Regions from separate parts of the Homo sapiens genome. Here region 1 is linked to region 2. The links come from fine-mapping of genetic effects on gene expression. A gene starts in region 2. The other region holds a variant in brackets. All regions are shown on one strand. Distances are from middle to middle. Region 1 overlaps MARCO (macrophage receptor with collagenous structure). Region 2 holds the start of MARCO (macrophage receptor with collagenous structure).

The links. PIP is the estimated chance that this variant, and not a neighbour inherited with it, causes the effect.
Region 1: its variant is fine-mapped to the expression of MARCO in whole blood (TOPMed, PIP above 0.99).

What each region holds. Positions count from the first base shown.
Region 1 is chr2:118,981,017-118,983,927 of GRCh38, forward strand. It overlaps MARCO (macrophage receptor with collagenous structure), which reads left to right. Exons shown (of 17, transcript NM_006770.4): 9 at 393-491; 10 at 605-640; 11 at 1,140-1,238; 12 at 1,332-1,394. Among named protein-coding and RNA genes, the nearest start is that of MARCO, 40 kb to the left of the region's middle. The variant C/T (reference allele first, on the strand shown) is at 1,698.
Region 2 is chr2:118,940,542-118,943,452 of GRCh38, forward strand. MARCO (macrophage receptor with collagenous structure) reads left to right here and starts at 1,653. Exons shown (of 17, transcript NM_006770.4): 1 at 1,653-1,856. The coding sequence starts at 1,760.

The DNA of each region.
Region 1 (2,911 bases), 40 kb after region 2:
CTATTCTCAGCATTTGGGATCTGCTTTTCGGAATACTCAGGTTTCAATTTTTGAAGTGAATTCAAATAATTGCCAAAATGCAGACACTAAAACAAGCCAGACAGTGCTGGCTGAGCCTTGGCTATTGTCCCTCCCAAGGGGACCAGGGCTTTCTGTTGACTGTCAGCCATACCAGATCACCTCACCAAATTTTCATGAGTTTCTTTCTTGTCTCTGGGGCAAAGCGGTGCACTCCTTGAGGGCAGCGGTCATATCTTCCACTCGCGGGCACCAAGTAGGAGCTCAAGGAGTTTAGGGTTTGGGATTTCAGTGGAATGGGAAGTGTCAGAGGAGGACATGGTGGCCTGATTGGAGTTCCTCCCACAACTAACCAAGACTTTTTGGTTTTTCAGGAAGCAAAGGGGACAGGGGCATGAAAGGAGATGCAGGGGTCATGGGGCCTCCTGGAGCCCAGGGGAGTAAAGGTGACTTCGGGAGGCCAGGCCCACCAGGTAAGAGGGCACGTGGTCACATCCACTGACCTCTAGGTATTTCCTTTTTTTTTTTTTTCTGGCTGGCTGAGCCAAAGGAAAAAAAAATTCCTAAAAGTTCTTTTTCATCTTAGGTTTGGCTGGTTTTCCTGGAGCTAAAGGAGATCAAGGTAAGAACTACAGGAATCTGGGCATCATCCCAGCTACGACTGTCCCTGGCAGAGTGAAGCTGGGGACCAGACACCACCATCTTTTGCTTCATTGTAGTATTCACCCAGAACACCTGGGGTTTTTTAGACATCTGGCCCTGGCCAAGAGGAACAGAGCAGCCAGTGGGCGGTGGGGGCAGGCCTCACTGATGTTTCTCTCTAGACTTTACCCCACTTTGCCACCCAGGGGGTGGAGTTGGACAGTCACACCCAGAGCTCCTAGTAAGTCCATAAGTCCCAGGCCCTGCAGATGGAAAAGATTAGTAAGTTGCTGAGAATAATTTTCCTCCTACTAAGAGGGCTAGCTCATGGCTTCTAAAGAGAGGTGTTAAAGCTGCCAAGAGGACTGTAAGGTGTTAAGAGGTACATGTCTCACTGCTGAAAACAGAAGCACTGGGGGTTGGGGTATCTGGGCCCTCTGCCAACCACCACAGCCTGGCAGTCACTACTTTCCTTTCAGGACAACCTGGACTGCAGGGTGTTCCGGGCCCTCCTGGTGCAGTGGGACACCCAGGTGCCAAGGGTGAGCCTGGCAGTGCTGGCTCCCCTGGGCGAGCAGGTGAGGTCCTGGGTCCTATGGTGGGCACAGGGAGTGATGTGTGAAAACCTGCCTAGTCCAGCCCTTATGCTCTCTGTGGTGTCTGTTGTCCAGGACTTCCAGGGAGCCCCGGGAGTCCAGGAGCCACAGGCCTGAAAGGAAGCAAAGGGGACACAGGTAACAGAGGGTGCAGTGGGTGAGTAGGTGGGCTTGCTGGGTGGCAGGATGGATGGAGAGAAAAACTGCTTCTTCTTAGGCCCACGGAGGAGGCAGAGGGTCTTCTGTGCCTTGGCCTCTGAGGTTCCTGGTTATGGGGGCAGTTGCCCCTGCCAGGACCCCTTAAGCCCAAGGGCCTAGGGCTGTTCTTTCTCTTCTCAGAGCTCATGAAAGTCCTTGAATGCCATGACCAAACCTCCAGCATCACGGAGGAGAGCAAAGCACCTTGCCCATACCATCTCCCTGGTCTGCCTCCCAGCTGTA[C/T]GTTTCTGCTGTCTCCTGCTAACCCTTCATTGGGGCCCCTAAGAGGGGGTCCAAGAGTCTAGATTCAGGCTGGAGGGTCCAGAAAACTCTTCTTCCACATTTTCCTAGGGGGGCAGCCTGGGAGCACTGACCCACACTAGCCAAAGACTAGTTTATACCATAATGCCAACAGAGTCTAGGTTAGTCTAGGTTATATACCATCATGTCTATTTAGTCTAGGTCGTAAACCATTGTACCAATATAGTCTACTTTATAAGCCGTTTTGGTCCAGTCACAGTGTGCTTGCTTGGTCTAGAAAGTCCAGACCACTATCACAATGCATAAGATCAATTCCTGCCTTTCTGCCCTGACATGCAGGGTATTGCAGTGAACAGAGACTGTTGCCAGATGATGTGGGCACACTCTGATTGGGCATTTCTGTGGAGAACTGTTGCACATTGGAAAGCCAAGAGCGGGCAGGAGGGGCAATGGGGAAGGCAGGGTTGTGATGTAAAGCTGCATGTCTGCCAAGGACATCTGTAGACAGTCTGCCTCCACCCCTGTCCTCTGCCTGAGAAGGTCACGCTTGTGTCAGACAACCTGGATGCCCTCACCCCCGTGCTGTGCTAGAGACCTACACTGGGACCTGGCCCTCCACAGCTCTAATCAATTGATTGATTCATTCATCACCACCTCCTGGCAAACCTTGGGCTCTGGGCTTGAGCTTTTGTGTTTCTTTGAAAGCTGTCGGGAGCCATGGCAAGCGCAGTTTTACACCCTCTCTGTCCTTGTAATCTGTCGAGCCCCAGAGCAATTGTGTTTTTTATGGACAGTGTGTTTGGGAGGATCCCTGCTACCTGATCCCATGTGGATGCCACCTGAAGGCCACTAGCTGGGTCTCACCATAGGAAAGTTTCCATCTGGGTATAGTCGTCAGATGTTCCTGACTTGTTCACTGTCCATTCTGATCTTATAATTCCATCTTCTCTGGTCCCCAGTCTCAGAGTCCATCTGACTATGAGACCTGATGCTCTCTTGCCCCTGAGCCTTCTGTGTGATTTCATGGAGATGATTGCTTTCATCTCTCGGTTGTAAATAGTAGTCACCCTCTGCCCCCACCCCCACTGCCAGACTAACGGTTCTCAACTAACCAAGAGTATTGGAGGTAAAACATGATTTTACCCACAGGAGCATTGTGCTTACTCCCCAAGCCCCAAGCTTGTGTCTTCCACAGT
Region 2 (2,911 bases):
CCTCAATTATCTGGTCCTGTCTACCCCCCAGACTCTAGCTGGAGCCATCACTTCCTCATTTCCAATTTTCCTCTTTAAATTTTTCTGTCCTGGCTTCTGCTGCTTGTCCTCTGGCGGAACCAGTGACTTCCTGAATGTTGAAATTGTGGGCGCCACGGGGGACCTCTGCTTTTCAGGGCACTGCTAGGAGCTCACTTTCCTGAGTTTCATCCCCTTTCACTTTCTGACATACCACGGGCCAAAGAAAGTGACTTCGCCTGGCACAGCTTCACTTCCTGCCACCTGTCTTCCTCACCTCTTACATTTCAAATAGGCCAAAAGTCTACGGCTCCCCTGCTCCAGGCTGTCCCACCTCTGAGAGGCTGCACCTGCCCTCCTTCCTCCCTGGAGGGCCTTTGCCTCATCTTGATCTGGATCAATCCCCCATTATCCTTTTAAGCCCAGCTCTGGTATCTGATATCTCTTGATTCAGATGATAAAGCTATTTGTCATATTTCTGCCCTGTCTCCCCTGCCTCCCGGCACTTCTGTCTTTTCAGGGACATCAACCTTTGCCGCACTTCACAGCAATTTTCTGGAATGTAGTTGTAGCCGCAACCATCTTGCATGGTAGACTGTGAATATCTTTCATGAAAAAAGGCCATTTCTTCATCTCCTCGGTGCCCAGCAGGCTCACAATGTCTCTAATGATAATAACAACAACATGACCATAGTGTTTATTACCTAATACTTCCATCCTAGCCACCTTATATGATTTAATTCATTTAAGGCTCACGAAATTCATATCTTCCTTATTTATACAAACAGAAGAGTGAGATGCTCAAAGCTCAAGTGATTTGCCTACTGCCAGACAGCCCCTATGTGGAAGAGGTGGAATTTGAAGCCAGGCATTCTAGCTCTTAGTGTCTGTGTCTTAACCACCATGCTATACAGCATCCCTGGTAGAGATGCCTGACGGGAGGGAGAGAGGGGAGAAGCTACTTTCCTTAAGGAGCTCAGATCTCACTGGGGCCTGGACAAGGACACCTGTAACACATGTACACATGTGCACACATGTGTACACACACAGAGAGAGAACATGGGAAAACTACAAGAAGAAATACTAAGTGCTAAAATGTGTGGTTCAGAGCAAGGCTTCTCAAACTGTAATGTGTATATAAATCACCTGGGGATCTAGTTAAACTGTAGATTTGGATTTGATCTGATGGGGTGGGACCAGAGACTCATTGTTAGAACAAGTGAACTTGCATTTCTAACAAGTTCTCAGGTGATACTAATACTGCTGGTCCATGGACCACACTTTGAGCAGCAAGGATGAACTCTAAAGGTTGAGGCAGGTCAGAGAAGGGAGATTTCACTGTGGGCTGGAGAGGTCCTGGGACAGAGAGCTGAGTCTGGGCCCATGGCAGGGCTTGGTTGGCCCTCTCTGGAGCCATCCAGCTTTTGGGTCTCAGGGACCTGGGAGTGACGGGTGCATTCAGAGGCCCGTAACTTGTGTCCCAAAGCCTCCTCGATCCCCCTTAACAAGCAGCAGCACTGTGTGGGAGATCCACATGTGAATAGCCCGTGTTTGAGAAATGTCCAATCCTGATCATGTCAGGAAACATCCTGCAAATTCTGAAATCAGAGCCAAAGGGAAGTGCTGCGAGGTTTACAACCAGCTGCAGTGGTTCGATGGGAAGGATCTTTCTCCAAGTGGTTCCTCTTGAGGGGAGCATTTCTGCTGGCTCCAGGACTTTGGCCATCTATAAAGCTTGGCAATGAGAAATAAGAAAATTCTCAAGGAGGACGAGCTCTTGAGTGAGACCCAACAAGCTGCTTTTCACCAAATTGCAATGGAGCCTTTCGAAATCAATGGTAAAGTACGATTCCCCAATAATGGAAATGACCAGAAATGTAGTCTTTCTGCTAGCGAGATACGAAAATAGACAAGTCAATAGAAAGTCTAGGTTTGGCTTATTGCTGCATTTTGCACGTAATCATCACTAATACTGTCTGGAGTGCTTCAATTTGGAATTTCTGGAATGCTAATAATAGATGCTGTATTTTTAGCATATAGTCAGGTTTTTCTTAGCTTCACTATTGTTTTAATCATATTTAAATATTTTCCCTTGAAAAAATGCCAATGCTTATTAAATGTCCCCTTTTTTTAATGAATGTCTTATTCTGACACACAGGTTGGGTGATACAATGAAAACGCAAAACAGGGGCACTGAAAGGGGACCACAAAACTGAAGCCAAGCATGACAGTTTTCAAAACACAGCTTCTTTAAAATTCTTTAAGGGGATTTCTGTTATAACTGATGTGCTGGTCAGGAAACATATTCTGTATTTCATGTTGACTGAAATATGTTCATAGCTTCATAATTAGTTTGTCTTAGGTTAAACTCAGGTCTGTAATATTCAGTCAACTCTGTTGTCTTTATTTTCTCACTCAGCATTCAACAGGTGATGCATTTTTAAAATCTTCTAGAATTTGTAGCATTTGAAGTCATGGGTGGGCTTGCATTCCACAAATGAGCTCTGATTTCCTAGTCTAGAACGTTCTCTTGGGATCATCTTCCAAGTTGATCAGTCATTTCCACTCCCAGGCTTTGCTGGAAGTTGTCTATGCAGGAAAATTGGTGGCTTTATCTCCTGGCCAGAGTGTCCTTCTCATCCCACACCTGTCTGCCCAGGTCCCTGCCTGGAATTTTCAGCGCACAAAGATGAAGCGTCTGGGGCTCTGCCTCTAGGAATTTACAGTGTAATAACAGAGAAAGGTGTGAGTGCTAATGGCTATAATAATCATTGGCTATTTAGAACTTCTCAGAATGCAACATTCTGGATACATGACTGTTTAAGAGACTGAAGATGTTCAAGCAAAGTCAGCTGATCAAGCATACTCAGCACCTATTTCCAGCAGGGCACTG